Regions from separate parts of the Homo sapiens genome. Here region 1 is linked to region 2. Evidence: fine-mapped expression QTL. A gene starts in region 2. The other region holds a variant in brackets. All regions are shown on one strand. Distances are between the middles of the regions.

Region 1 (16,315 bases), 48 kb before region 2:
TTGAGGCCGGGTGCGGTGGCACACACCTGTAGGTCAGGAGTTTGAGACCAGCCTGGCCAACATAATGAAACCCTGTCTCTACTAAAAATACAAAAATTAGCTGGGCGTGGTGGCGGCCACCTGTAATCCCAACTACTCGGGAGGCTGAGGCAGGAGAATCACTTGAACCCAGGAGACGGAGGTTGCAGTGAGCTGAGATTGCACCACTGTACTCCAGCCTGGGTGACAGAGCAAGACTCCATCTCAAAAAAATAATAAATAAAAATAAAGAAGCAATTTGAGGGATACTTTTGTTGCTGTTAGCCACTGAGTTTTTTTTTTTTTTTTTTTTTTTAACAGTCTCATACTGTTGCCCAGGCTGGAGTGCAGTGGCATGATCTCAGCAACCTCCACCTCCCAGGTTCAAGTGATTCTCCTTGCCTCAGCCTCCCAAGTAGTTGGGATTACAGCTGCCTGCCACCACACCCGGCTAATTTATTTAGTATTTTTAGTAGAGATAGGGTTTCACTATGTTGGCCAGGCTGGTCTTGAACTTCTGACCTCAGGTGATCCATCCATCCCAGCCTCCCAAAGTGCTGGGATTACAGGCATGAGACACCACGCCCGGCCTAGCCACTGAGATTTTTGAGGCTATTTGTTATTGCAGCAAAACTTAATGAGAGCTTACTACTACACCCTCTCATCTTCCTCAATCTCTCCTCAAAGCTGCCTCAAAATTTAAAAAATTCTTTTATATACTCATGTGATACTTTCTCGCTTTAGGCCAAGTGAAAATAAAGGCATCTTCATAAACATTTGCTTTTTTTCTTGGTTCATGATATGACTGTACAAACTGCACTTGTGTATACGGCTTTAAACCCAGACTTCAGGCAGGGGGAACAGTCAGTGCAAAGGCCCCCAAGGCAGGGACGTCAGGAGTCCATGTGGCTTGGTCAGAGTAAGAAGGTGGGAGAGTGGTAGGGAGTGAGGCTCATGGAGTGAGAGGTGGGCAGTGTGGACCTGAGCATGGGCCCCAGAGAAGGTGCAGTTTCAGGACAGAAGCACAAGGTGGCACCGTGACACTCCCCTCAGTCACTGTGGACCGCATGTGCGGTGGTAGAGAAGACACATCTTCTTATCCTCCAAAATGGCTCTGCCAGGGAATGAAAGTCCAGCCGACTCCAGCAAATTAGAAACTGTACTCTTAGGACTGGAAAAGCTTTCGAGACCTCTCAATCAGGGAGGTTTCCATGTGGGGTCCATGATGCCTATGCATGGACTCCAGGACCCAGGGGATCCCCTGAATTGCAGTGTGCTTTTCAGGAGAAACCTCCAACATTTTCACTCCAAGGGGTCTATGACCCAAAAAAGGTGAAGAACCTCTGACTACCACTGGTGCTCCCACCAAGGCCAGACTTGACAAGAACTTCCTCAGCAACAGGCAGCCCCGGCCAATTCCACATTATTACCAGGTGCCTGGAGACCTGTGAGTCCTTTGCTATCTCAGTGGAGGCACCCAGTAATGCTTGGAACCGCTGGGCCTGAGGACACTCGGGCTCTCCTTCCAGAAACTAGAGCTTTTGTGAGGGGCCAGCAAATTTGCATACGTGCACCCGTGCACACACGCACACACCCCTCTCTCCACTGTCTTTAGATTGAAGAAATCACATCTTCTGCACATGAACGTCCTGTTGGTTCTCAAAGGTGCCTGGATGTTTCTGTGATAAGTAAAATATGATTGCACAATGTGGTTACTGAATTTGCAGTCACTTTGATCATTATATAGTTTCTCACCCACTGGATGTTTTATAGAAGTCTAATATAGAATTGATCTAATTGAAGTTTAATATATATTCGACTCTATGTGTCCAATATAATGAATGGGGCAGGGAGTCTGTCAGATATTTTGAGCTAAATGAGAAACTTCATAATCAAAATGGTGGGAGCCACAGTCTGGTGAAAGGGAGGGGTCGTGAGTGATGTCTGATGGCCAACAGGTGAGCTGGGACGGCGCAGGGGGCGCGGTGGGGGCAGGACAGGAAGCTGCGTGGGCAGCAGGTGGAGGGTGTGAGCAGAAGTGAGACTGGAGCCTGTGGGGTTGCTCAAGTGGAACTGCAGAAGGAGATCAAGAATGAGGGAAGATGCAAATTTTTAATTCAGCATCTTCTAAAAAAAAGTCCCAGAAATGACTGTATTTGCTATTGGTGTTTTAAAATATCCATTAAATACCACATTTGCCAGCATCACTTCTCTTATCCCGGCTGCTCTAGCAGCCTGAATTCTGCCTTTTTCTTCCCTGAGAGCTGGGCTCAGGGAACCCGCGTATCGACCTCAGGGGGTCAGGCCTGCAGGTGGGTGGCTCCCCTGGGACTCTTTAAAACCAAACCCCGAGCAGAAAGGAGAGGCTGAGGTTTGGGGCTCCTTTAAAGGCCTCCTCTCAGCTTGTCTCCAGTTCACTGCCTAAGAATGTCCTCCAGACACAGGCTCTGAGGCCAGAGCTATTGAATATTTATCAAGGCCTCCTGGCAGACGTGGGAGACTGAGAACAGGAAAATCAGGCCCAGGCGGGCATCTGTGGAGCCTGCCTGGGTGCTAGCCAGATGCTGCAAGATTCAAGTTGCCCGTTGACTCTGCAGAGCCTGCCCCGCCCTGTCCTCCCTCCTCGGGGAGGCGTGCATGGGCCTGGCTGCTGTCAGGGTGTTTGCTTCTTGTCACCATCCTCCATACTGACTTCCATTGCAAGCCCTGCCCCACTGTGGCTCCATTGTCTGCAGTGGCCTGGGCTGACCAGCTCAGCCTGGAGCCCTGCCCTGGGACGATGCGGGCTAACACAGTGACACAAAGCCCTGCTTTGTGGCCCTGACAGGAGGATTTATCATTAGCTGTGAGATGGTCCCTGGCAGATCCTGGCATGTGGTGAGCAGACAGATCTGTGCTGATCACAGTATTTTGAGTACCCCCAGTTGAATACAGCATCTGGGGCCCTCAAATCTGCCACATGGATCTTATGGCTTCAGGCTCACTGGCACCTTTTGTGTTGGCCGAAGTACGGGTAGGGGGTAGATTAGGAGCACTAGCTTGTACCCAGTGACGTCTGGGGGCTGGTTTACAGGAAAGGCACCCTAAGGTTGTGCAGGCCCTGACATGTGGTCCTCCTGGCATCTGGGGACAGCATGTCAGGTTTGGGGTCTGCCCATCCTTGCCTTGGGCACAGGTCCCCAAACAACAGCAGCATCCCTGTGGGTGGGATATCTGACCAGCAGAAAATGGAAGTGAATATCTCTTTGATCTTGGAGTGAGGAAGAATTTCTTAAAAATAACACACCAAAAAATCACAAATCATAAAAAAGAAAGATTCATGATTTCAACCACGTTAAATTTAAGAACCTTGGTTCATCACAGGTATTTTAAAGAAACTCAGAAGATAAGCCACAAGCTGGGAAAAGATATGTGTAGCACTTAAGTGACAAAGGATTAGCTTCAAGAATATATCGAGTCCTGAATGCCTGGTGGGGTGGAGGGAGTGGGAAATAGACAGATAGTTCAGAAGAAAAATGGGAAAAAAATATGAATAGGCATTTGACAGAAGAGGCAACACATAGGGCCAGTCAACATAGGGATGTGCTAACCTAGTCAGTGTCCAGGAAATTGCAAAACAGGCAGTGAGATCCATTTCCTCCAGTCTGTTTCCTCCAGTCTCTCTCCGGGGCCTGGAGATGCTCCTTGGATGGTTCTCAGTGGCCCTGGTCCTCTCCCTGGGAAGCCTGGCCTGTCAGGCTCTGCAGAGCCCTCTGTTTTGTCCTTCCCCCAATATCCTCCCACTCAGAGCCTGAGTCTGCCCCTGCCCCTTCCCTTCCTGTCCTCACCAATGGCGAGTGTGGCAGATCCTCCAGTTTCTAGAAACACCTCCTCACTCCATCTTCATCCTTTCCTTTGATGTTTCCCCAGGTCTTATCCGGCCAGGTGGGCTTTAGGGAACATTTTTCTTCCCCCTTTGAAGCCAGGGTCTCGCTCTGTTGCCCAGGCTGGAGTGCAGTGGCACAATCTCGGCTCACTGCAGCCTCCGCCTCCCAGGTTCCAGCAATTCTTCTGCCTCAGCCTCCCAAGTAGCTGGGATTACAGGCATGCGCCACCACGCCTGGGTAATTTTTGTATTTTTAGTAGAGACGGGGTTTTGCCATGTTGGCCAGGCTGGTCTTGGACTCCTGACCTCAGGTGATCCACCCACCTCGGCCTCCCAAAGTGCTAGGATTACAGGCATGAGCCACTGCACCCGGCCTAGAGAGCATATTTTCAATCAGAAAAGTAGTTCGCTGCACCTCACAAGCCCAACACTGAGTTCCAGGAGGACCTCAGGACAGGCTATTGATGGTACGGTAAACATGGCTGACAACTAGCACGTTCTAGACCAAGTTCAGGTAGAAAGGGACTCCCTCAGCTGGCCACAAAGCTACCCTCTCCCTAGTGTGCAGCCTTATCAGGCTATTGTCCAAGGCAAAAGCTGTGTGTAACAAGCAGCCCACGCAGCCTGCAGCCAGGTCTGCCAAGGCACCTTTCCTAAGGGGCTGCCCATGTGGCCCGCTCACGCAGGATCTTGCTGGCACTCTTCCTTGGGAGCTTACCTTGTTTGGAAACCTTTCCTGGTTAGCCTTTAAGAGCCTCAACAGGCAGCTGAAAGCATGTCCTGAAATGCCTGAACTCATACTTGGAATGAGAACTAGCTACAGCTTAGTATGCCATGAACGTTTGCATCACTTGTTGTCCAATAAATCTGCGGTCCCCAACCTTTCTGGCACCAGGGACCAGTTTCATGGAAGACAATTTTTCCATGAACAAGGAGGATGGGGTGGTTTTGGGATGAAACTGTTCCACCTCAGATCATCAGGCATTAGATTCTCATAAGGAGTGCACAACCTAGATCCCTCGCATGCACCGTTCGCAGTAGGGTTTGTGCTCCTATGAGAATCTAATGCTGCCATGATCTGACAGGAGGTGGAGCTCAGGCAGCAACGCGCACTCACCCACTGCTCACCTCCTGCTGTGTGTCCCAGTTCCTAACAGGCCCTGGGGGTGAGGGATCCCTGCAATACATAACACGTGCTAAGCAGTGGGGTTTGGGTGCTACTTCCCAACTGGCCGCTCTTAGGAACTGGTGAAACCTTAAGTCAGGTGTGACTGAGCGAGCCCCTGGGTCATGGCTATTCTCCTTGCTGCTCTGCTCTCCTAAGTCTGGTTTGAGGCTCCTCTCCCTCCCTGGCGTCCCACCCTGTATGTCTCCTAAGCCAGTCCAGCTTCCAAGGGTCGCTGTTGTTTCTCATGGCCTTCATGAAAACAGCGGGCAGGGCATGTCTCTGGCCTGTGATGGCTCCCCGCTATAGTCCTTGTCATCTGTATATCAAGGAGATTTTATTTCTTTCTTTCTCAGTTCCTCTTTCTTTCTCTCTTTTTTTTTTTTTTCCTGTTTTTCCTTCACTCAACAAATCAAGCTTCCATTAGGCACAAAGAGTCTTGTAGACACTTGAGGACATACCAGTGAACAAAATAGTCTTAAATCCTTGCCCTCATGGAGATTCTATTCCGAATGGGAGACAGGAAATAAGCAAAATAAAATGTGAAACCTATGACAGGGTGAAAGCGATATGCAGTCCTGAGAATAACTTTTATTTGCATGGCACCACAGCTGCAAAAAACAGTGCATTTCACTAACCCCTTATGGTATCAACCATGGATGGGGCAATCACTACAGGCCAAGCATTGCATTTACATCACTTCAGAACCCCTGTGGGAGGTGCTGTCCTATCCCAGTATACAGATGAGGACACTGGCACACAGGGAGACTCAATGACTTCCCATGATCATCCATCTGCTAAGAAGTGGAGTCTGGATTCGAACCTGAAGCCGTGGGACTCCAACGTCTTTGTTCTTTGTCACTGTACAATATGCCTCCCAGCTTCTGTCCTGGCTGCCTCCACAATCACTCAGCAGCCTCTGTACTGCATACACCACAGCGGGAGGTAGTGCGTGGCTGCTGAACATATGGGTGACGAAAGGGGTTTTCTGGTGGGACTGAAGTGCCACTGTCCCTCTTACGTGCAGAAGGCCCTGCCTGCCCTGCATGCCACCATCTAACCTAGTCCTGCCAGCAGCTGCCTGGTGGTGGCTTTGCAGCCCTGTTACAGCCCCTGCTGGGTGCATGATTCACAGGGGTGCAGTGTTGCCTTGCCCAGGCTCAGGCCCTGGCCTGCACCAGCCTGAGACAGAGCACTGGGTCAGAGGTGCCTTCTGTGGCTCCACTGCCCAGGGCATCAATGGAGCAGGGCCTACGGCGAGCCTCTGTGTGTGTCGAGACAGCTAGAACTGTTACTGGTGGAGGGTCTTGACTGCAAGTTGTCCAGGTTCTTGGTGTTCTGAACGAAGAATTGGACAAAATGCACAGCAAAGAAAGGAAAGAATGAAGCAACTAAAGCAGAGATTTATTGAAAATGAAAGTACACTCCACAGGGTGGGAGCAGGCCTGAGCAGCGGTTCAAGGGTGCTGGTTACAGGATCTTCAGGGGTCCAAATACCCCCTAGAGGTTTCCCATAGGCCACTTGGTGTACACTTCATGCAAATGAAGTAGTGGCCTGCAATCAGTCTGATTGGTTGCAGAAATCAACCAAATCGGACAGGTGGGGGTGTTTACAAAGGGAGTAGCCTCTGGTCCTTTTGTTACTTAGGTGTGGAAAGTTGGGGTTTCCCTTTTGATTTAGTTCTAATTAGTCAGTGTGAATCAGCCTTAGGTTCCCTGCCTCCAGACCCTATTCTCCTGCCTCAGAACTTGCCTGGGCAAGACTAAAGGTGGTCTCACAGTCCAGAGAAGCCACAGTAGGGGCCAAGGGAAAAACTTCTTTGCCCTCTGTATGTTCATGGAAAAATCATCTCACAAAATGCAGATTAATAAAAGAAAAGGCAGACAAATTTGTTAATGTGCACATGGGGGAGAACCACAGAGTGATTACCTCCACCCTCCACCCTCCACCCTCCTCCACCCTCCTGTCTAAATAAGCTCTTCTTCTAGGCAAACTGGTGGGGGGAATTGATTCACTATCCTCAGAAATTAGGAAGCATGAAATTATGCTGGCTCTGCTACTGGGGAACAAAGAGCAGGGGCGTGGTGTGCAGCGGCCAGTGCAGGAAGTATAAGTATATATACCATCCTGAGGTTACAGAAAGAATGGGGGCTTGGATCGGGGCAAAATAGGTTATGGGAGGAGAAGATGAGGAGGCCTGGTGAGCCAAGATGATCTTGTTACGTAGACGAAACCTCACAGGGAGCAGCCCCGAGAGAACTGATGGGAAATGTTACTTTCAGACCTTTAAAGGTGTCCCATTTTCAGTTAATTTTTCCTAGATTGGACAAAGGACGACCTCTGAGAAAACCTGAGAAAACCTGGCTGCATCAATGCAGATTCTCTGCAGATGCAAATCTCCCCCAGAAAGACAGCTTTGCAGGGCTCCTTCTGTTTGCAGGCCCTCTGAACAACCATCTCAAATTATGTCAAAGAAGTGTATTTGGGGATGAAACATGTGGATTTCTTTCACCCCCCACCCCCCTGCATCGCTTGTGTACTCTTTTCCCAAAGTGGAGTCTACAGCATGGAGTAGGGGGAGTTGATCTCCAGATATCCATGTCTCTTCCCTGCGCATAGTGACAGGAAACTGAACCCAGGAATCAAAACTCAATATATGAGGCCAGACAATGGTGCTTGTTCCTCCCTCTTGTTGTGAGAAGACATGAAGTGAACTCTGGGGTCATGAGTTACTGTGCTTCGAAAAATAAGCTGTGTGACTTTGGGCAATTGCCCAACCTCTCTGGGACTCAATGCCATTGTCTGTAAAATAGGGCTAAGAACTCCTTTCCTGCCTGCCTCCTAGATTTGTGGTGAGGATCACAGGAAATAATGTATGTGAGTGTGCCCTGTAAACCATAAAGTGCCCTAGTGACATGCACCCATGCACCTCCATCATTCCTGCAGTGACTGAAACTTGGAAATCTCACCAGAATGCATCACTGTGAGACTTGTTGAGAATTAAGTCAAGCAGGGGTTAAATTTGCCAATCACCAGAGCACACTATGTATATTTAAAATCCTCCACTCTTTTAGTAATTGGGGGCAAAAAAGAAAAAAAAAAACATCCACTCTGTCCCAGAATCATTATTCTGTAAAGTTAATGAGTTCCATGAAGGGTCTTTGTGGTGACTCATCCCATCACTTCTTCCACTCCTGCCACCAGGTGAGACCTGGGGAGAGCATCAGGGAGCAGGTGTCTTAAGGATCTGAGGTGCAGGGTGGGGGCTCCCGCAGCGCTGTGTTTAAACAGGGCCCTGCTGACGCCTCACCACGGCCGGCTGGGAAACAGCTGCAGCATAAGGCCTCTCCTCAGGCTAGTGTGGAGCCCAGCAGATGTGCCATTTGCCTCCACAGCAACAGACGTGACCCTAAAACCAGTGAGGTCCCCACCCTGAAAGGCTCCACTGGCTTCTGAGCCTGTGTCTAGAGGGAGTGGGCAAGGATTCCAGGTGCATGGAGAGGTGAACGCTATTACTGACTCCTCTGCTGGCCATATGCTTACTTCCTTTATCCTCCCATCAGCTCTGTGAAGCACCCACCACTTTAGTGCGGAGGAAGCCGAGCCTTAGAGAGGTCAAGGCCTTTATTTCAGCCTCCCAGCCAGCAGGCAGCAGGGCTCCAAATCGGAACCCAGATTTATTGGACCCCAAATCATAGGCTGTGACAGGGCTCGTTATTAACCAGGCCATAAATACTTCCTGAGTCCCTATCCCGTCCCTGGAACTGCTGGGGACATGAAAGGCACAGGAGGCAGGGGCCCGACCTCACGGGGTTGGAGCAGACCTAAAGTGGGATGAGAGCAGAGGAACCCTGCGGCTGGGGCTCTCCACTCTTCCATCACGCTCTGTCCAGCAGGGCAACTGGAGGGAGCCATGAGCATGCGATGACCTGGCGGCTGCTCAGGATGGGAGGGACCACTGTCAGCCAGGACTGGCAGGACTGTGTGAGTCATCCTAGTGGGTGAGGGAGTCTTCCTGGGCTCTGGGAGCTATGAGTCCATGATTCCTGGGCATGTGAGGAAGCTGGTTAGGAGCTCAGCCAAAACTTAAACTCTCAATCCAGCACTCTTTACACTCCCACCACATCTGAGCTGAGACTTGAAGGGGTGGGGCATGGGTGATTCTGGTCCCAGGGACTAGAGCCTGGGGGCTCCCACCTTTTCCTCTGGTTCTGCACTGACCTGCCCTCTGGTTCTGC[C/G]CTGACCTGCCCTTGCCAAGCCCACTGGGCCGGCGAACAGTTGTTTCCATTTTCCCTGCAGCCTCTGTTCTGGGAACCAGGCCAGCATTCATAGCCTTTCCCCTCCTTTTCTTTTTGTAATAGAAACTGCTCAGGGCTGCCAGGAGCCAGCAGTGTGCTCCGCGGCTCACCGTTTGGCTGGACTGGAGGTGAAGCTTCTTGGTGGCTCCTTCCCAGCCTTCTATGGAAGCTGGAATCCACTCTCCCGAGGCCATTTCTCCTCCCGGGGTTCCCTCTCTGCAGCCTCAACCCCCCAGTGCCCTTTGTCCCCTAAAGCGAGCAGTTTGTTTTCAGTCCAATACCTCCAGGGGATGGGGGGGGGCGCCTGGAGGAGTGTCCCAGGAGAGGGTCCCACCAGCCACGCTGCCCTGAACCCCCTTAAAATGGGGGTGGTGTGACAGTAACTTAGAGACCACTTAGATGACCTCAGGCATTCTGAGAAATCTAAAGGCTGATCTGAAGCCAGAGGAGGAAAGTTCATTCACCTTTGTCCCAGCCCCTCCCCGACTCCAGGACTCTAGCGTTGGCTGTTTTTATTTGCAGTCCAGCGTCCGGAATGAGCGGAGTTCCTTTTGGGAAGGATGTGCGGCAGGTGTGCTCACTCTGCCCGGGAGCGTCTCCCCGCCGAGGAGCGCCCATGCTGACTGCGAATTGTTCCACACTGCACGCAGAGCATTCCTTTAGCAGCCTCTTGTTTTCTTAAGTGACTCTCTACAACTGTTTCCTTGGAGGCGTTTGTCTAAATAAGCTCTTCTTCTAGGCAAACTGGTGGGGGGAATTGATTCACTATCCTCAGAAATTAGGAAGCATGAAATTATACTGGCTCTGCTACCGGGGAACAAAGAGCAGGGGCGTGGTGTGCAGCGGCCAGTGCAGGGCCCAGGACAGGGTGTGGGGGCTAATCACAGCCCGCGGGGTGGGTGGGAAGTGCCCCAGCCCCAAGCTGGGACTGTGCTTCTCGGCACCTTCCACACCTTATGTAGCTCCCCTTTGGTCTCCACGTTTCTGGAAGTCACAGCTGCACCCTGGGTCACCTTAAGCTTTTTCACAGTGGACCACATGTGATTCTGAGTTACATTACTTTAACCTCAAGAGCTTGACTATTTTCTATATCGTGAAGTTATAAAAGGATAGTGGAATCTCACAGTCATTTGAGAGACAATACTTTTTTTCGACCATATGAATGTTTTGTACCATGGAGACAGTGTGAGCCAGGCTAGGAGGTCTGGTCAGAGACACTTATTTTATTTTTAGTTTTAGTTTTTGTAGAAATGAGAGTCTCACTATGTTGCCTAGGCAAGTCTTGAACTTCTGGCCTCAAGCAATCCTCCTACCTCGGCCTCCCAAAGTTTTAAGATTACAGGTGTGAGCCACTGCACCTGGCCAGACACACTTAGTTTAAGGAGCAATGTGCTATAGGCAAGAAAGCCAAATATATCTCAGGTCAAATCTGGCTCTGCTGTGTGATTTGGGGCAAATTAATGAACCTCTCTGCACTTCTGTTTCCTCATCCATCAAAGGGGAATAATAAAACCTATCTCACTGTGCTGTAAAGATTAAATAATGAAATGGATGCAAACTACCTCACATAGTACCTGGCCCACAGCAAGTTCTTAACTAAAGAGAACTCTCTTTCTCTTCTAAAACCTAGGATGCCTGAGGAGTCTAGGATTAGGAATCTCTGAATATTTACTAGTAGCATTGCTGGGGTGGATCAGAAATATTTGGGAAAAAAGTTAGGAGGAAAATGGCACCTATGAGGATGTCATAGTCATCAGCAATGAAGGATTTGAGAAGTTCTTTAGCAGAAATCAGGAGATTACCTCTTTCATTCAAACCCTAGCGAAGGATGCTTTACACTATGACTATGATTACAGAGAAATGAGAATATTTTCCATTTGTGATATAGAAAAACCATTCCCTTAACTGGGGGCCACATGCTGTAGGGAGTTCAATACCATTCTCCAAGTACATGAGGCCCAACCTACATCCTGGTTCTGTCTCTTTCCCCAGCCCTGGTCCTTTGCAAGAGGTAAAAGTCTTTATAAGTGCATGAGAATAACTGCTCAAAATCACTTTTAGGTTTCCCCCAAATTCTCCTGATCTCTAATAAAAACAAATAATTGAGGGGATGTGACATTACCCTTGGTCACTAGTGATTTAGAGCTTCTGTCCATTGCTCCTTGGAGCTGCTCATCCTCAAAGGTACCCCAGGCAGAGGCCAGCAGCGAGTTCAAGGCCTTGTCAAGAAGGTTTTCCTTTAATAATACGCATCCACATACACAAAACACAGGCCTTCCTGGAATTGCCAAAAGACAGCAGCTGCAAAAAGGACTTGGACAAGAAAGTTTATTGCAGCTTTATTCCAAACAACCCAGATGCCCATCAACAGGAGAATGGTAAACAAATTATGGCATATTTATACGATGGAATATTACACAGTTATAAAAACAGCAAATTTTTGAAATGTGAACCTCACAGTCATGATGTTGAAAGAAACAAGACACAGATAAAAAAGTACATATTGTGTAATTCTATTTATAATGGAGTTCAAGAATCAGCAATGTTAATCCTAGATGACGGAAGTCAGATAGCAGTTACCTTTGGGTAAGCATGCTTACTTTGGACTTGGAAGGGGCACAGATAGCTTTCTGGGGCTGTGGAAATGTTGCGAATCTTGGTTTGGGTAGTTACATGGGTGTATGCGTAGATAAACATTCACAGTGATGTGCGCTCAAAATTGTGCATTTTATGGGACATAAATTAAAAACGTAAAAATATTGAAAAACAGAAATTGGAGAAGTGTTAAAGGGTCAGGTTGAATGAGGACTGTCTAACCTGGAGCTGGCATCAGAAACAACTACCAGAAATCCCTGTAACCTGCTTCTCCTTTGGGGTCTGTGAACCGCAGGACTAAGACACTCCCACATTCTGACCCTGGCACCAGCAACAGACTACTTGCCATCGGATTGATGTCGAGAAATGATCACAGGATAACAGCTCTTCTCACGGTTCAGCAGATAATAGTAAGTCAAACTTTTGCCCCAGTTGAACATCCTATCTCTAAGTATACCCCCCATTTCCTCTGAACCCCCCTAAACCATTTGCCAGTCACCCAAATCACCATCTGTGACCACTACTCCCCTGCATTCTACATCCAATCAATCACCAAGCCCTGTCAATTCTCCTTACTTGATAGCTTTAACACTCCTCCACTCCTCTCCAGCCCAGTGTCTTAAATCCACACTAACATCCTCCTTCTAGATGATGCGCCCACCTCCCACCTGCTCTCCCAGACTCCTGTGGTCTTGCCCTCCCTTCAATGAACTTGCCAGCTGCTGAAGGGATCATGGCCCTAAAATGCAAATCATAGAATACTTAAAAGAATTTCTAAACCTCCCAGGATTCACCCAGGCTCCTGGCATGGCTTACAGGCTGTAACCCATGATGCAAACCAGGCTTGCCTGTCCTGACAGCCTCATCTCTCTATGCGGGGCACTGTCCTAAGTGGTAGAATTAATTACAGCAGTGAATGAAACAAAGTTCCTTCGCCGATGGGATTTGCCATTTTGTAGGGAAGTACAGACAACAAACAAACAAATATATGAGATGATGTGGTATACATGTGAAAGACAGAAAAGCAAGATAGGAGACAGGGAGTGATGTGGGATTCTGTGTCAGCTGGGATGGTTAAGGAAGGCCATTCTAATGAGATCACATTTGGGCAGAAGCCTGAAGGAAGAGGCTGCTTGCCACCCCACACAGCAAGGGTGTGCCACAGTCATCTGCTCTCCTGGCAGTTCCGAGAGCAGGCTGGGCTCCCCTAGGCCTCTGGGCCTGTGCACGCACACTTCCTCTCCCTGCAGCATTCCATACCATCAAGAACTGAGATCTTATCTCATGTGCAGGTAATAATCACACATGCCAAAATTTCACGGATGTTGGTAGAAGACATGAGGCTCCTGGGTCAGAGAAGAAGGACAGTTTCTTCACTTCCAGTAATAGTAACAGCCAGAGTGGCAGCATTTTTGCACTGGTTTTCTGACCCCAGGTGACCCAACACCACCATTCAGTGAGATAGATGAAGTCTAAATAAGAGAGTAAACCATTGTGGAAGGCATTGAAACCATAAAAAGTAAGATGAGAACAGTTGAGAAAAAGACACTTAGAATTGACTGCAACATTTACAGAGTTTTGGTGTCAGCAGAGGCCTTAGTATTAGGTGATGGAAGCCCGCCACTGTAAGGTTCCCGCCCTTGAGAATCTGCTCAGGACCAGCTGGTGAGATGGACGTGTCAGCAGATAAATTGCAAGGCTGTGCTCTCAAGCTCTAGTGCACAAAGGACTATGGGAGCCCATAGAATGGGTAGGAGGAGGCCATTCAAGCTAAATCTTGACAGATGGGCAGGAATTCATCAGAAAGACTTAAATATTGGTCTTGAAAATAGCACTGCATACAAGAAAAAAACACATGCATTTATGAGGCAAGAGTCCCTGAAGTTTCACATTTACACAAAATGATGTGTGTCTTTTGGTGGGGGAAGCGGATGTGAAATTCCCTACAGATAAGCCCAGGCTAGCTGACCAGATGAGGTGAGATTTCTTTCAGGTACTGCCTAAGCAATCAATGGCCAGAGAGGGCTGCGGGGCTGGGCTGCTGGGCTGCGAGGCTGCTGGGTGCTGAGGGAGCAGGGGGAATGTTCCCTGGGGTGTGGCTGGCCATGGTGCTCGCCATCCTGGAACAAATCAACTGAGGCGCAAATCTGCAGCACCTTTGCCACAGCCAGAATCCACGGTGGTTCCTCCGTGAGCACATGCCCTGAATTCCACCTGGCCTGTGCGTCATGCTCAGTTGGCAGGATATCAGAACCAATGCTGCCAACACCAGACTCTCCACGTGCGGAGCAATTTATGAAACCCTGGGGCCAGCAATGGCCACCTTTGCATCCTGGAGTTAGGATGACCCTGACACATCCCAGCCCCAGCATACACCACCGCGCTGCCCTGAGGCTGGGCTCTACCTTTTGAGAGCTACTGAGCTCTGCAGAGATGTGGGTGAAGGGAGCCACAGACATATCAGTCTGGCAGGGGCTTAGAGTCACTGCTCTAACTGCCTATCTGGCAGGTGAAGAAACAGAGGCCAGGGCAGGCAAGCCCTGACCAGGGCAGTGTACCTGCTTGGTAGACGAGTTCTCTCCTTCCCCCAGTGCAGTGCCTACTGTCTCTCTTTAGCTGTGCCTAGCTGGGTTGGGGTCTTTTCTCTGGGCTTCCCTAACCACTCCTGCTGACCCCTATCTGAGCTCCAACTTCTCCCTGGAAACCACGCATTAACCTATTACCTCCTCGCTACACTGTGAGTTCCTGAGAGGGGCTTGCGTCTTTCTCATCTGGCAGTTGGCCAGAGCCCCATAAGTACACTCAAGTTGAATGAGCGATTAAATGGGTGACTGCAACAAGCCTGGGCAGGAATGGGTAGTGCTCTTTTTGGTCATGGCTTCTTAAACACAAACAAGGTGGGCTTCATTGGGCCTTATTTCAGAAAAAAATATTCGTCTTATTATAAAAAGTAATGTTTGGCCAGGCACAGTGGCTCAAACCTATAGTTTCAGCACTTTGGGCGGCCAAGGTGGGAAGATTGCTTGGGCCCAGGAGTTTGAGACCAGCCTGGGCAACATAGTGAGACCCTGTCTCTTAAAAAAAAAAAAAAGTTAGCTATGGTGTTGCATGCTTGTGGTCCCAGCTACTTGGGAGGCTAAAGCAGGAGGATCACTGGAGCCCAGGAGTTGGAGGCTGTAGTGAACCATGACTGTGCCACTGCACTCCAGCCTGGGCGACAGAGAAGACCCTGTCTCAAAAAACAAGTAAGTAAAGCAAAATAAAAAGTAATGTTTGACTTGAACTTACAAGTTAAAGAACTGATGAGTCGATTGTGCTGTTTTGATTCTGTGGCTCCTGTCATCCGTCTCACTCTACCTCCCAGCGACACAGTCCTGTCCTCCTAGATACATGTACCCTAGCTTGAGAAGTGGGACTGCGGGAAGCTGGGCCAACCAGGTGGCTTATTCACTGTCTGCTGGGGCAGGAGGCAGGGCAGGGGCAGGAGGGAGGCAACCCCAGCCTGTGCCCGGCTTCCCCGAGGCGTGTGCCTTGTGCGGCTGCTGAAGGAGTGACTCCTGAGGAAACCAGCTTTTCCAGGGAGGCAAGGGATGGGAGAAGAGGGTGGAGAAGGAAGTGGTCACACCACTTGCCTTCTGCCAATACTGTCCCTTTCTTACGCGTTAACCTTCCACTCTGAGCTATGACACTTTCAGTACTAGTGTGGTAAGTTCTACAGGAAACAGGAAACATGGTTTAACAGACATCCCTTTAAGCTTTAAGTGTAGCCCAGGCCCTGTTCTAGCTAGAATGAAGTTTTGCATAATGAATAGATACCAGATTCCCCTGAAGGGCTCTTGCCCCAGAGACTCTCAGTGGCCCACGTTCACAGGTACTTGCAGGCATGCATATATGCTTCTCACCTCTTAGGAAATGGCCTTTGCAGGCATGAAAAAACAAATACCTCAAGTTCCCTTCCTGAGCCTCTTAGGCAACATGAAAAAACTACATACCAATCCCGAGAATGGAAGCTGGTTTGGAGTTTCACCTCACAAAAAGCTGGCCCCACCATGCTCACCCAAATGGCAGATTTATGAAGGTTCTGTTTGACAAGAGCAAAGGATCCACTTTGAGCAGCTCTGGGCCTATGGAAGGCAAGGTGTTCATGTTTAAGCACAAAGGTAAACAGAGCATAGCAGCAGGTTACAGAGATCATTTATTTTCCCGCTGATGACAGACATGAGCTCTGGCCCAGGGCCCAAACTTCTTATCCTTGAAAAACACATTTTACAGATTGCCGGCAGAGACAGCCAACCCAGATTAAGCTGCCAGACCTAACTATTTTAGATCTTCCTCCTACTCCTCTGGAAAAAAAAAATATAAGATAACGATTT
Region 2 (16,315 bases):
TAATTTGGCATAAAAGGCATGGCTGATCGATCCTCAACTTTATCTTTCTAGATAGATTTATCTGCAGTCTATTCACTGCCAGGTACTGTATGATTCTGTCACATTATACTGCTTACTGTTCCTGAAACATACCATGTATTTATGTCTTAAATGTATATGCTTCTTCTTCTGGGAATGCCCTGTCTCTGATTAGCTCATCTTTTAAGGCCCTACCCAATTCCCTGTGGTAGAACTCATGATTCTTCTCTTGAGCTATCATAGACATTAACTCTATTATATATGAACTCTACTATAGGCATTTTTCTTGTGTAACTTGCTTTCTAAAAAATAAAATGGGGCCGGGTGCAGTGGCTTATGCCTGTAATTCCAACACTTTGGGAGGCCGTGGCAGGAGGATTGTTTGAGCCCAGAAGTTCAATACCAGCTTGGGCAACACAGTGAGACCCTGTCTTAAAAATAAAATAAAATAAAAAAATTAAATGGAAAAATGAATTTCCTAATATAACAAGTAGCAAATAAATGGCATACTGCACTACAGCTTGTTGCTTTCAAGACTATCACTTCTACTGCTCCTTTGCCAGACTGTCATGTCTTTGCACCTGGTTTTGTTTAGGATTTTCAGTGACTAGCAGAAAACCTGGCACATAGCAGATGCTCACTAAATAACTACTTAATTAAGGAAAAAATAATTTCCAATAACTTATAAATAAAACCATATTTTGAATCTTACATAATTATTATTTTAAAGCTTTTTGTTATAAGGATAGATAAATATCATGACAGCAATTCTGGTCTTTATCTTATAGAAAGAAGGGACAAAAGCACATATTTTATATTAAACAAAGTACAAAATTATGAGGGCAAAATATCCAACTATCTCACTTCTCCCTATATTCTACTGCTATTTTGATCTAGACTGGAAGTTATATACTGGCAGCCTGTTGGTAAAACCCGGCCTGCAAATATATTTGTGTGGCCTTTCCAGTATTACAAAAAAATGTGAATTTGTTGTCATTGTTTTAATATCAGGGTATTACACATAAAAATTTGGATTTCCTGCTTTTCCTGAGTGTGTATGGGAAAGCTGAAGAATGGCAACATCAGACCTACATTCTCATAAAGCAACAATCAGAGAGAACTGAGTGACAGATGTCACTTATGGCAGAGTATGTGCTTTCCAGGTTATCCGCTTCTCCATTGTCTTAACAGCCCTCAGGATGTGTGTTAGTTGCCAGTAAGTAATCAATGACATACTATTCTTTTTCTTCCAAACATCTTGCTTCACTCATTTACTTTAGAGGGTGGTTCCTATGACCATTTCAGTTTCCAACCCTAGTCTAAAATGAAGGAGTACTGGTGTTCTGATTTATATTTTCTGGCCACTTTTGAAACTTATTTTCCCATATACTCCTACCCCATGAAGAATGACTGAAACTACTGACATGGAATTCTATCTGCACAGTGACTAGTAAGAATCCAGGGGCGGGGTGACAGCAAGCTTCTGTTTAGTCAGAAAAGTTACATGTTCACATACAGCCCCAAGTATCCAGAGAAACAGTCCCACTTACTTCTCTGCCCACCAGACCCATACTAGATGACCACCATGGCAGATCTTATTCAGAGAATTGTAACCTCAGGGTGAATAGTACAGCCTGGTTTTCCAGAGCACTAGTCTCCAAAGTAGACTGGAGTACCAGAAGAAAATATGTAAACTTCTATTTAGATCTACTTTCAGACTTAAATAAGGAATTGAAGCTTTATTGCAATTAATATACCACTGAAACCCATGCTGGGCATGCACATCAGAAGGTCACATGTCAGTACAGCATGCTGGGTATCCTGAAGGTAAGGGGAATCTCATACATGGAAGGACAGACAGTGATAACCTCATCTATTCTTTCACTTTTAGTGTTCATGCATTACAATGTGAGTGGGCCTGGATTTATGGAATAATTTGTCTAGTTTTAACCAAATCAACCTTCACAAAATTGACCCATGGCTTTAAAATGTCTTCAAAGAAATAGATTGGTAACACACACACTCATGTATAAAAGAGAAAATGGAAGCATTCATACTACTCTATGATTACAATCAACAGCCATATTACAAGGTAAAAACAGACTACTTAATCAGATCACAAGACGGTGGCACAACAATAAAAAATTATCAGAATAGTATCTGAAGCAAGGATTTAAAAATATAAACAAAATTTGCACTGAGTATATAATATACCTTAAGATACTAACTGACATAGTAAAACATGCATCTTAAGTTGTAGATGCATATTGTGGCTCTGTCCATAAAATTTTGCACTAATAGGAGTGCAAAAAAGACTCTGGAGGCTGGGCACAGTGGCTCATGCCTGTAATCCCAGCACTTTGGGAGGCTGAGCCGGGTGGATCACCTGAGGTCAGGTGTTCGAAACCAGCCTGGCCAACATGGTGAAACCCCATCTCTACTAAAAATATCAAAAAAAATTAGCTGGGTGTGGTGGTGGGCACCTGTAATCCCAGCTACTTGGGAGGCTGAGGCAGGAGAATTGCTTGAACCTGGGAGGCGGAAGTTGCAGTGAGCCGAGATCATGCCACTGCACTCCAGCCTGGGCGACAGAGTAAGACTCTGTCTCAAAAAAAAAAAAGACTCTGGAGGCTGGGTGCAGTGGTTCATCTCAGCATTTTGGGAGGCCAAGGCAGGTGATCGTTTGAGCCCAGGGGTTCGAGACTGGCCTGGGTGACATGGTGGGACTCTGTCTCTATAAAAAATTATAGAAGTAGCTGGGGGTGGTGGTGTGTACCTGCAGTCCCAGCTACCCAGTAGACTGAAGTGAGAGAAAAGCTTGAGCCTGGGGAAGTCAAGGCTGCAATTAGTTGTGATCGTGCCACTGCACTCCAGCCTGGGTGACAAGAGTGAGACCCTGTCTCAAAAAATAAATAAATAAAATTTAAAAAGAGTTTGGAGCCTTAACTTCTATTGCTAGACCATGCTAATTCTGAGGATTCTACTGGAGAATACTAGTATTCACCTGGTTTATGAGTGTTGTTTACACGTTTCTAGTTGCAGGATCTTCATTGCTATTTAATTTCATCATTAATCTGAAATCATCTATTTAAATTTCTTTCTGTCCAAGGTTTAGTTTATCAAAGTGATAACTGAAATCTTCAAAAATAGATATAAAAGTATATTATGTATGAGTGTTTACATGCAAAAGAAATGTATGCTGGTTTTAAGTCAAATGATCATTCAGCACTTAAAATGAAATATTATAGCACGTTTGCCTTTACAATCAAAAGATTAGATGCCTAGAGCCAAGGTATGATTTTTATGAGTCAAAGTCCAAAATGTTTACTAAAGTTATTCATTTCAAAAAAGTATTGTTTTTGATGGTGGTATTTCAGTTTATTCCCACTGGGAAATAAAGTCAGTTACAAAGTGCTTCAGTTTCACTCTATCTCCCTTTGCTTCTAATGTACAATAGTAGAAAATTCTAAATAGCCTGCCAAGATAATTCCATAATCCTTAAAAATTTGGATTATGGCCGGCTGCAGTGGCTCACGCCTGTAATCCCAGCACTTTGGGAGGCCAGGGCGGACGGACTACCTGAGGTCAGGAGTTTGAGACCAGCCTGGTGAAACCAGGTGAAACCCCGTCTCTACTAAAAATACAAAAATTAGCCGGGCAAGGTGGCACACGCCTGTAGTCCCAGCTACTTGGGAGGGTGAGGCAGGAGAATCACTTGAACCTGGGAGATGGAGGTTGCAGTGAGCTGAGATCATGCCACTGCACTCCAGCCTGGGTGACAGAGCAAGACTCCGTCTCCAAAAAAAAAAAAAAAAAAAATTGGATTATGAGAAGTAAACTCTAGAGTTCCTACTGAAATAAACAGCTAGAAGTTTTTTGCTAACTCCTAATCATTGTATGTTGAAAACACATTTATGTCACCTTAAATCTCTGAGGAACCTAAATATATTTATTTAAAAATCATTTATCAGCCAGGCGCGGTGGCTCATGCCTATAATCCCAGCACTTGGGGAGGCCGAGGCGGGTGGATCACTTGAGGTCAGGAGTTAGAGTCCAGGCTGGCCAGCATGGTGAAACCCCGTCTCTACTAAAAATACAAAACTTAGCTGGATGTAGTGGCGAGCGCCTGTAATCCCAGCTACTCGGGAGACTAAGGCAGAAGAATCTCTGGAACCTGGAAGGCGAGGTTGCATTGAGCCGAGACCACACTACTGCACTCCAGCCTGGACAAGACAGAGACTATATTTTTAAAAATTTAAAATATAATTTATATTTTTAAAAATAGAAATCATTTTCTAATTGCTCTACTATTTTCATGTCTTCTGGAGTGAATCAATATCCTGATTGTTGATCTGGCTGGCTGTCTTGAAGTAAGCCTGTCACTCTGTGGAAAACTGACAGCATTTGTTGCCACTGACATAATTTGAATTTTTAAGTAAAAATTAGTTTTCTTCATGTGTTTTAGGATATTTGATATAGGCTCAACTTGATTGTCCCCTCCTGCTTCTATCCCTGTCTAGCGGCTTTATGGTCATGGTCATTTCTGCTTGGCCTTCTGAGTCCCCTGGTCCACAAACACACCTTATGATGGGACCCCCAAACCACCAACATAAGTGAACATACACGTTATCACAAATCCAGACCTTAAGCCTGCAAGTAGATTGGTCCAGGTCTTGAGAGGCTATATATATCTCTTTATTTCTACACTTTTAAGTACTCAGCTCTATTTAAGTCGTAAATCCAGATAGTTGGTTGAGCTTTCTTCAGATTTATTAATAATTACCAAATTTGGGAATAGTCTTTCTCCCTGCCGTATTTTCTGTTCTGTTTCTGGTCCCCAGTGGTGTTTACCTCATCAATTCTCAATGCGTGGTCTGTGGACCCCTGAAAGCTCCCAAGGCTCTTTCAGGAGTTCATGAAGGTAAAACATTTTCCTAACGATACTAAGACATTATTTGCCTTTTACACTGTGCTGACATTTGTACTGATGAAGCAGATAAACTGGTGGGGAAAACTGCCGGGTTTAATAAGAATCAGGAAGAATACCAAACTCTATTTCACTGCCACATACTTGCAGTTAAAAACAAAAAACCAAAAACAAAAAAGAACAAAAAACCCCCACCAGTTTTACTTAAGAATGTCTGATGAAGCAGTAAAAATTTTATTAAACCTTGACCCTTGAGTTCTCTTGTCAGTAGGATAAAATGGGAAATGCAAATAAAGACTTTTGTTGCATACCAAATACAATGGTTGTCTCCAGAGAATGCATTTAAGCAACTGAGTTGTAAGCTGAACTAGTGGCTTTTTTTTGTAACCACCAAATTTCTCCCATCTTCACAGTCAAACAGCGGTTTATGCTGTCTTCACTTTCTTACCACACATTCATTCAGCCTACTAAAATCTGGCTTTTTGATTTTACTGAAACTGCTCTTGCTAACTAGTCCTTATTTTATCAACTAGTCCTTATTTTACTTTACCATTCTATTGCACCTTACGTTTTGGGGTACTCTTTTCTTGAAATTCTAATAGTGATGCCAAGGCATTATTTCCCTCAATTTTCCTAACCATTCCTTCTCTCCTTTGCAGGCAGATATCTGCTATATCTGCAGCCCAAACTCATATTTTAAATTCTAGATCCATATATATAGCTGTATCCTATAGGATACCTCCAAAAGATCTAAAGAGACCACAAACTCAATACATCTGAAACCTTTGACTTCCCATAAAATCTGCTCCTCCTCCTCTTAATGACATTACCTTGAATATGCTAATGGCAACGAAGTCAGAAAGACAGCAGTCATCTTAGGGTCCTCCCTCTTTGTTACCTTCCATATATATTCTAATTTGTAACCCCCTTTTGTAAACCCCTTCAGTCCTACTGAAACTAATTTTAGGCCCTCATAATTCCTCAATCAACAGATTTCCCTTCCTCCAATTCTAGCCTTTCCAATTCATCCTTTTAGAAATTTTCATTTTGTCGGCAGTTAGAGGGATGGATTGGAAAGGTCAGAATTGGAGGGAGAAATCGATTGATTGAGGAATTATGAGTGCCTAAAATTAGTCGTATCATTGACTTGTTTAAAGCCTTTAAGTTCCCATCCCCTATGGCAGGGATTCTGGGCTTGAATGGAATAAACACTCCAATATTCCATACCCTGCACATATGCATTTTCCTAAGGAAAGGGCCCAGATTCCCAAAGATTAACCCCAGAAGCAGCCGACCTCTGAAATCTTTTCAGAACAATCTCAAACCGTACCCTCCAACCTAGCATATATTCCAACTAACCCCCAATTACTTTTAAGTTCTCATACAGGGTTATGCTGCTTCAACATTTCCTTCCACTGAACATAAGATTCCTTCTGCCTAGAAAGCCACTCCCCAAGTGAACCAGTACCCATCCTTCAAGTGTTCTCTCAGCTATGAAGTCCTCCCTAGTTCCTCCAAGCAAATGCTCTCTCCCTCATTTCTTCTACTATTCTTTGCATACACCTTTATCACAGTTTATTACATGGCATTTTTGTATTTTGTATGTCCTTCATCCTTAATAGATCATGAGAAAAAGACCATGTTTTATTCATGTGGTATGCTAGTGTTTAGTACAGATCTGGTATAAAATAGTCAAATATTTACCACACCATTAACAATGTGTAGTCTTTTCATAAAAGGCTCTCCTGTGTAATAACAAGCTGTTCAAACTGAAAGTATTTCTGTAAGATGCTTAAAAAGGGATATTTTTCAAAATACATCAAAACACGAATGAACTTATCACTAGTGCTTGAAATATTAAGGAAAAAGCTAAGTCTACAGTTGTTTAAAAACTTGACAAAAAATATAAGCACAGATATAAACAACTGCCTCTTCATTTAAGTGGAAATCTAAATTATTAGTTATACATTTAATTATAATCCTCAATGAGACTAAATCTAGATATAAGACTTTCTTAACGTTCATATTTGATTAGCCTCGTTAATGAGATTTTCCTCTTGCAATTTTTAAATGCTTTAATCATGGTTTTCTTTATACTTAAATCTGGACTTAGGTTTAAAAAAATCAAGTATATTTATTTATGCGTCTTTCAAGTAGTCATTTGTGTGAAGTCAGCACTACTTCAGTTTTCAGAAAACACACAAAATGTTCAGTGAATGGTGAAATTGCCTAACCCCTTGCGCGGTTACAATGGTCCAAGTAGGAAATCACATTAGGTACCCATCAGAGAAACTGAGTTTCTACGCTGCTTTTAAAAACATCCTCGGTAGGTTATTTAGAACAGGAAATTGAAAGTTCTTATTCTTCTTCACCACTCTATCACTAAGGAAAAGGGCGAAAAAGCTATGGATGTAAATGCTGCTGTCTATAAACACAACTTGCCTGCAGAAATATGTAGTGGGCCGCGAAGTTTGAAGGAAGCCCGCAGTGCCTGGTATATTCACCAACTCCTCCAAGTAACTGATCATTGCCAAGGTCGAATTAATAAGCGTTCTTTGATGTTAATGATTGTGAGTGTTCTCAGGAAAGGACTAAAAGCTGACTTTCTAAACAGGATGTTGTTTGGAAATACCCCAAACAAACTCGATGTCCATTCCTAACGTGTTATTAAGTGAACCGATCTGACTCGATGCGTTTTGTTAAAAGGACTTTCTTTAGTTTCCCTGGCCCACAGTTTATTTTTTTACTATTTTTAACTCGGAGCCCATCTTAAAAACAAATTAAGAACGGAATGCTCGCCAAATCACGTCTACAAGACAAAATCGGCTTCCCAGGGAGCTAGACCTCGAGTGGGCACCGGCAGGGACGTAACCGCTGAGCCTCTCCGCAGAGCGCGACGCCGGCCGCCGGGTTTCGGTTAGACCGCAGCAGGAAGTTTTCCCTTCCTCTGCGGGAGGCAGTGGAGCCAAGGGGAAATTTGAACTCCCACTCCACGGGGACACCCAGAGGGGAGCTCCGGTGTGGGAGGGTGGCTCCCCTGGGAGCCAGGCGGCCGAGGAGCTCGTGATTCGACGCCCGCCGCGGCGTCTCCGCCCCGCGCGGCCCAGGCCGCGGCCTCCCTGCCCTCCCTGCCGTCCACTCCCAGTCCCGGGGCGGCGGCCTCAAAGCCCGCGCGGCAGGGCTGCGTCCCGGCTCGCAGGTCCCCGTCTCCCCGCCTAGGGCGCCGCGCCGAGCGGCAGGCGGGCCTGGCCGGCGCGGGCTGCACTCACCCACTCGAGGACCTTGATGAAGCCGAGTGGCTCCTTGAGCGGGTTGAGGTTGATCTGGAAGCCGGACATCCTCTGAGGAAAGGAGGGAGAGAGAGTCAGGACGACGGGGCGGAGGAGGGGACCGACGAGACCAGAGCAGCCCGGTGGCGAGGAAGGGCAGGCGGGGCTGGCGCGCTGGCCGGGCTCGGAGGCGGGCCCGGGCGGCCGTGGGGCGGGGCGGGGCGGAGCGGCGGCGGTTGAGCTGCTGGCTGAGACTCTGGGGCGGAAACGGAGTGGGGCGGCTGGGGAGGCGAGGGGCGGGCCGGGGCGGAGACCGGGAGGCTTCTCCTCAGGCCGCACCTGGCCGAGTCGACTGATCCGCTGGCGAACCAAGTAGATGTTGGGCGCCATACTGCGTGCGCCGCGCCCCCTTCCCTGCGGTTCAGCCCCTGGCACTCGGTCTTCCCCTGCGCACGCGTGTACGCGTGCGCTCGTTGGGCCCGCGCCGCGCTTCCGGACCCGCGCGACTGCGAAGAGCCCTGACCCGGGGGCGCCCACGCCCGCTCCTGCGCAGCTTGGGGGCGCTGGCCTCAGAGACACCCTCACTTGACCCCGAGCTCACCACAGCTGAGCTCACTACACCGAAGCTGACCTCTCCTTCCCTTAACAGATCTCAACTTTTTTATGAATTTATAATGTATTGGCACAGATGAAGTTGTGTTTCAAGGCATGTGTTAGGGGCCTTTGATTAAAATTGCAAAACAACAGACTTCTGGCTACCGTGCTGTGGGGTGCCTCGAAAGTGTGAATCACCAAATATTCGTATGGAAATTAGGTTTATTTTCAAAGTTACCATCGCAGCCATGGTTGAAAAATGAAGTAAGTTTATACCTAAAAGGAAAGGCGTGGCCGGACAGGCCCTCGGTGACCTACACTTTCACCTCTTCTACGCTGTCGGTCGACAGTCCTCTTTTTAAGGCATCGTTGGTATCTTTCTTCAAGAAGCTGACCCCTTTAAGATTCGGCTTAGGTGATACTTTCCTCTTGGCACGCAGTTACGGGAGCCCCAAGGTAGTGTGATCTCCTTCCTGGCTTCTTCAGTACCTGGAAAGTTCCTGGACAGCTGGAATGTGGTCATATTCGTGTATATGAAAAACCAGCTTCCAAGGACTTACCTGAATTTCAAGCACGAATATGATTTGCAGGCTACTTGCCACTGAGGTTATTCCGTCAGGGTTGACAACTGTTATTGAACGTCCTTGTAGTAAGCGAACCCTTTCTCTTTCGAGACCTATCTCCTTGTTTGCTGTCCAGAGAGTGCAAAAAATACATTTCATTTTCTATGCAGACAGAGACAATCTTTATGTTTATCTTGGCTCCCGTTCCTCAGTCCCCAGCACAGTCAGTGCTCAATGAGCACCTAATGGCATATCTCATTTTGAAATAACATTAAGAACTGGGCGCGGTGGCTCACGCCTGTAATCCCAGCACTTTGGGAGGCCGAGGCCGGCGGATCGTGAGGTCAGGAGTTCAAGACCAACCTGGCTAACATGGTGAAACCCCGTCTCTTATAAAGATACCAAAAAAATTAGCCTGACGTGGTAGCACGCGCCTGTCATCCCAGCTACTCAGGAGGCTGAGGCAGGAGAATCGCTTGAACCGGGAGGTGGGGGGGTTGCAGCGGGTTCCTAATGGATGGTTGCAGATTTCTCCCACTAAGCAACAAAGCATCATAGATACCCCTTAGGGCTAGGTGAGTGGAAGGTGACCATACACTGCTACCTGGTGCGTCTGAGACCACGATGAGCGGTGCTCCAGGTCTTCCAGCTTCCTCTCTCTCCTTTTTTTTCTACTTTGTTTCTGTATCTTCCTCTCAGTACTTCTCTTTTTGTTCTCTTTAGCCCGTTTTTCTAAGCTTTTACTCTCATTCTGTTGCGGTCTTCTGGGTAGGCACCTGGGGACGGAGTAGTGAATAGTAAGACTATTTAGCTTGAGCTTCATATTCACGAATATTCAAATTAGACTCTTAATGTTATTATTATTATTTTTTTTTTTTGAGACAGAGTCTTGCCCCGTCACCCAGGCTGGAGTGCAATGGCGTGATCTCAGCTCACTGCAACCTCTGCACCCCCGGGTTCAAGCGATTCTCCTGCCTCAGCCTCCCGAGTAGCTGGGATTACAGGCACGTACCACCACGTCCGGCTAATTTTTTTGTATCTTTATTAGAGACGGGGTTTCACCATGTTGGCCAGGTTGGTCTTGAACTCCTGACCTCATGATCCGCCACCTCGGCCTCCCAAAGTGCTGGGATTACAGGCGTGAGCCACCGCGCCCAGCTCTTAATGTTATTTCAAAATGAGATATGCCTTGACAGATTAGAGATATGTTCACATGCAGCTTTATTAATTAAAGATCTAAAACATACCATGACTTAGTAAACCAATATTGGCATCTCTTCTTCTTTTTGTTTATTGAAGGCCTTAGAAATTGGAATTGGCCAGGCCCTTTCTCAACTTCCGCGCTAAACTTTCTGTTGCTTCTGTCTGCCTCTCCTCACTTTCTCTCCTGCTTCTTGTTCAAGCCCACCAGTGGAAGGCATGGTGGTTACATTTCCTCAGGAAACCTTCAGTGCTAGAGTAACTCCTTGAACTTTAAGAAGGTTCCTTCCTTGGCCCTGTGGCACTCGATTTTAAAGATGGAGACCACCGAGGGTGAGCAGAACCACATCTGGTCACTTATCAGAACTCATTCGCAGAATCTCTCTTGAGCAGAAGGAAACAGAAGTGAGCCGCCACTGCTCACCTTCAGTCACAGCCTAGCACTGCTTCTGCCAGTCAGCTGAGCTCAGGGGCCTACCTTCCTGAGAAGGAACTGGCCGTGACTGGCAGAGCCAGTGAGATCTGATTGGGCAACAAGATAATTGTGATTTTTTTTTAAATCCTCCTCAAACAAAAGTGTTTAAACAATAGCATCTCATTGAAGGCACAACTGTTCAAAATCAGGGAAGAATGTTCAGATGACTGTATCACATTGACTACAACACTGGTCATTTTCTGATTTGTTCCTCAAATCTGAGGAAAGAGCCAGATGCTCTGGGAACAACATGTTCCAGGTCTACTCTACCAGGGCTATTTGGAAAAGAATCCCTGTAATATAAAATGGTTCTGTCTATCTGAGGTAGTATTATTGAGCTTTATCTGTGGTGGTATAATTATGGCTAAGTTACCTACATAATTTGTCATTGTTTTACTTTCTCTCTGTGGCTTTGAACACATGTGCCAGACTGTGACACTTGGGATTTAGGAATGCTCAGAAGGCCAGAAAGGAAACTATATTTAGTCAACCATATATTAACTATATTAGACATCTCATTGGCTAACTATAATATTTTTTGTTTTTCTCAATGGGAATACAAAGTTTTGGTCATCTTATTGGCAAGATGAGACTTTGTAACTCATTCCCAACCAATATTTATCTCCTTTTCTGAAAAGATATTGTTTAATACCAAATTCAAAACCTGACTTTTGCTTATAAACACAAATAGGTGTTTTGTTTTCGCTAATGAATTCAATAATCATTTTAGAAAAATTTTAAGATAACCAAATTTATTTAAATTGTACAATAGATGGATTTAATAGGCTCAGTAAATTAATCTCAAAGTAATCTGAGGCCTCTTAAACTTTTCATTTTAAAACATATTTTGATTTATGAATTGCAAAGTACAAAGAGTTCTGTATACACTTCACCCAGTTTCCCCTAATGTTAACATCTTCTATAACCATCATACATTTGTCAAAACAAAAAAAATTAGTATTGATGTGTTACTACTGACTAAACTAAAGAATTTTTCAAACTTCATCAGTTGTCCACTAATGTCTTTTTTACTCCCCCAGGATCCAATCCAGGAAACCACATTTAATGTAATGAGTGTCACAGGTGATCAGAAACTATCTGGGGCCAGTGGTACAGGCAGTAAGAAGAATTTACCAAGACAGTCGTAGGTAAAGAAAGGCAGATTTATTTGAGAACGTAGGAAAATGTATTGCAAGGGTGCAACAGGCAGGTCAGCGAAAGAGGAGCTGACTGCAAAGAGTCAAAAGCTTGCTAGGGATTTTATAGGATGGTGCTTGTGCTCTGCGCTTGAAGAAGACTTTGTGCAGTATTGGTAATGCCGAGGTTGCAGTGAGCTAACTTGCATTTTTCTGTCAGCCAAGAGTCAGGTGGTAGCTCGGCACAGGAAGATTGTGAGTGATTTACACATGAGGGCTATGTGTCCTGGACCATGAAGAAAGGCAGACTTATAGCTTATCTATCTGCTTTCTCGTTTTGCTTTCCCCTGGTCCTGCCAGCCTGACTCCTTCTCCTGAATTAGGACTCTACCTTTCTTCACACCCTGACAGCAACAATGACTAATCTTTGGCATGTGGTTAAAGGTCTCATCTTCCAACTGCTTCTTGCTGACCAGGGGTGTATAGTTGGCCCTACCTAGGATTGTTAGTCGGTCAGGAGGTTATGTACACCTAAATCCCTGAGTTGGGACTTAAATTGGTCAGGGTTGCTATGAGACTATGGGAGAACAGCATTTGTAGCCTAAAATTTTGTTCTGCTGCATTCAAAGGAAAGTTATGTAGCTGATACCTTTGCTGTAGTACTGTTTTGGTTTGAAATTGTTGTATCCTAGAAAACACAAAATCAGATGTAGAATTAACAATACAGTATGCAAATAAACAAACTAATATGAGCTTTATTATAGGCAGAAGAAGTTGAGCAACCCATGGCCAAATTTAACTGGAGAAGCTTTGAAATAGTTGTGCTGAAAAGGAATCTTGAGGAACTCTGTTTTGAAGGCCCTTTAATATTTTTATGTTGTCTGTTATCTTTTCTAAACTTTCTTCTACCTGACCTGAGTTACTGATGTAAAAGCAACAAGTTTTATTTAACAGCATGCAGGTGCCTCCTGCTTCAGCAGGAAGCACCTCCTAAGTGAGTTGGTTCTGCAAAACATACCCTGCCAGCGAGTTCAGGGCCTGCCATTGGCCTTCAATGGCCGTGATTGTAGCTTCCCAAGATTGCTGGACTAGGATGGTGAGATTATGAATACTGCACTTAAGCATGGGTATATCTGCAAACCAAAAGATTGCACTGGCTACAGAATGTCCTAGGTCATTTTTCTCTATGACAGGATTATTATTGGCGAGGATGCTAAATGATGGGAGACTAAGTACTGCTTCTGATGTCCTTTGGAGGGACCAACATAAGAAGGATTTTAAATTTGGAGCTTGGCTAGAGGTTACGAAGTCTGAGGAGTTATATATGTGCACTCCAGATATTGCTGCAACTGTAGTGTAAGTGCCTCTTCACTTAATAGACAAGGCTAGAAATATGTTAGATCTGTATAAAAAGAAGAACCCAGTTCCTTTTAATGAAACTCCTGAAGAGGAACCTCACAACCAGGCATAGGTGTGATTAGTTTAGATTCCCGTATGGTTTGCATAAATAGAGGGATCCCATGGTCCCCTGGGATTAAATGTGGATGGGCAGTGACCCAAAAAGTAGTTATCCACGCATAAGGGGGTAAAAGTTTGACTTGTAGTGTTATGTGAATGTGGGGCCTGACAGATATGATTTTTGAATATTAATGGGATAAGAGAAAATTGAGGAAAAGATGTAGATGTATTAGTGAAGTTGAGAAGTCGTCCAGTTTTGACTGCTATTTCTATATGTTCCATCCTGGCTGCTGAACTATTTATAGGCATAAAGGAATTGTTATAAATCTTTCTGGCATGAACTTTGTTGTTTCCTCACCATAGAGAAAAACTGTGGAGGTACACAGTGAACTTGTTAAGAGTCATTGCATGGCTTCCATTCTGGTTTGTTTGATCATAGCTGACAGTGTAATTGCAATGGACTTGTGTGTTAAAGCCCCTGGGAAAGGGCCAGACTCCTTGGAATTTCTAGCATTATAAGCCATCTCTGGTGCCCTCCCTATTTGCTCGGTCACCGTGGGTGATTGGCATGAGGGATCGATTGGCCTAGGTTTACCTCATAAACCTGTATTTTTGGTGTGCGTGTACCTGGCGTAGTTGAATCCAGAGTATTTGGCTTGTGTGTTAGCAATTTCTTCTATAGATAGTGGAACTGCTAGGAGTGTAATGTCATTCTCGAGTGACTGCCCACGTGAGCATATCCAGCGGTTAGTGCTGTGTGTTGTGTTAGCAACCTGAGATATTACTGGTTATAGTGGGTGCTTGGTGTAGCCATGGAAGCAATAGTTAGCCATGACAGACAGAATAAACACAGAAGAATATTTAAGGAAAATGACAATATACAGTAAACTTAGGGAGACAGGAAAGAAGAAAGGCTGTAAAGAGTATGAAAAAAACCAAACAATTAGTACCTCAGCATATCAATGTTGTGGCATGGGGGTAAATAACATTGCTAGGACAAAGATAAAGAAATTTCCCCTGGGCTGTAGTTTTGGAGGTCGGCCTGCAAATAGCAATTGTGTACTATCTCCCTTATAAAAGCATTAATATCAACAGGGTGAAGCTGCTCAAGAGAGGCAGTTGGATAGTTACTGAGAACTTGCAGTAGAATTGAATAAAAAGAGTCAGCTTTAAGAATAACGTTTAAGGGCCAGTCACGGTGACTCACTTTGGGAGTCCCAGCACTTTGGGAGGCCAAAGTGGGCAGATCACCTGAGGTCAGGAGTTTGAAACCAGCCTGGTCAAAACGGTGAAACCCCTTCTCTCTTTTTTTTTTTTATTATTATACTTTAAGTTCTAGGGTACATGTGCACAATGTGCAGGTTTGTTACATATGTATACATGTGCCATGATGGTGTGCTGCACCCATTAACTCGTCATTTACATTAGGTGTATCTCCTAATGCTATCCCTCCCCACTCCCCCTACCTCATGACAGGCCCCGGTGTGTGATGTTCCCCTTCCTGTGTCCAAGTGTTCTCATTGTTCAATTCCCACCTATGAGTGAGAACATGAGGTGTTTGGTTTTCTATCCTTGTGATAGTTTGCTGAGAATGATGAGGTGAAACCCCTTCTCTACTAAAAAAACTACAAAAATTAGCTGGGCGTGGTGACACGCACCTGTAGTCCCAGCTACTTGGGAGGCTGAGGCAGGAAAATCACCTGAACCTGGGAGGTGGAGGTTGCAGTGAGCCAAGATCAGGCCACTGCACTCCAGCCTGGGCGACAGAGTGAGTCTCTGTCTCAAAAAAAAAAAAAAAAAAAAAAAAAAGAATAAGGTTTAAAGGAGGTGCTGGATTTATTTCCATTAACTTTAAGGGAGATTTAAAAATTCTAGGTTGTTTGGTTTAACAAAACCTCTTTTACCTTTTTTAAAAATTTAAATGAGTTTCCAATGTTTACCTTCTAGTTAGAACGTAAATAATGAGTATCATCTCAGCACTAGCAGCTGAGTAACAGCAGATTTAAAGCAGGCAGAAAAAAAGAGAGGAAGATAGAGAGCTTTAGAAGACTCTACTTAACTCTATAGTGCAGGTTAACCATTTGAGCTATGAATTTTTTTGTTGTAGTTTTTCCATCAGTTTAAAATGTGCACAAAATTATAATAGTGAAAGAGATCCGATCTAGCCCACCTGCCCCTCTTGCCTTTAGCTTGTAAGCTGCCTTAATCATTCCAGGGCTTTTGGGCTGAGTTAATTTTAGAAGACATCTGGGTTATAGTTTAATGATAATAGCCCTTCCCCCAAACTCAAACACCTTTTTAAAGCTAATGAGTGGCCATCAGGCTAGGGGGTGGAGAGGAGCCTGATTTCTGCTAAGGCGTAGCCAGCCATTCCTGTAGATAACACCACTATTGTAGGTTGGCTTTTTGAGGTATCTTTTCAGGTTTTTTGAATGTCTGACACCCATGGCTCTACCTGTACCCACCAATCCCACTCCTGTGACCTCACCCAAAAGCGATTCAGTGTGCAGGAGGACAGCTTCCACTCCCTATGATTTCATCTCTACCCCAAACAATCAGCAGCAACCCCAGCCACCCCCACCCCTCTCCTAAACTGCCTTTGAAAAACCCCTAAACTACGATCTTTGGACGAGGCACGTGGCATGGCTGGCCTCATGTCTATTAAACTTTTTCTG

Direction of the effects. Positions count from the first base shown, and alleles are read on the strand shown. Sizes are in standard deviations (SD) of each study's normalised expression.
With allele G in place of C in region 1, the expression in esophagus mucosa of the gene that starts at base 8,387 in region 2 is lower (small effect, 0.28 SD a copy in GTEx).

What was found. PIP is the estimated chance that this variant, and not a neighbour inherited with it, causes the effect.
Region 1: its variant is fine-mapped to the expression of SYPL1 in esophagus mucosa (GTEx, PIP above 0.99). The same link has a PIP of 0.9 or more in nasal epithelium.

What each region holds. Positions count from the first base shown.
Region 1 is chr7:106,056,069-106,072,383 of GRCh38, forward strand. No RefSeq gene overlaps it. Among named protein-coding and RNA genes, the nearest start is that of SYPL1, 48 kb to the right of the region's middle. RefSeq lists enhancers at 717-766, 1,277-1,326, 6,141-6,270, 6,301-6,470, 6,781-6,830 and 4 more and a silencer at 3,037-3,156. The variant C/G (reference allele first, on the strand shown) is at 9,288.
Region 2 is chr7:106,103,926-106,120,240 of GRCh38, forward strand. SYPL1 (synaptophysin like 1) reads right to left here and starts at 8,387. Exons shown (of 5, transcript NM_182715.4): 1 at 8,215-8,387. The coding sequence starts at 8,283. RefSeq lists an enhancer at 7,617-8,449 and silencers at 7,905-8,154, 8,165-8,654, 8,735-8,794.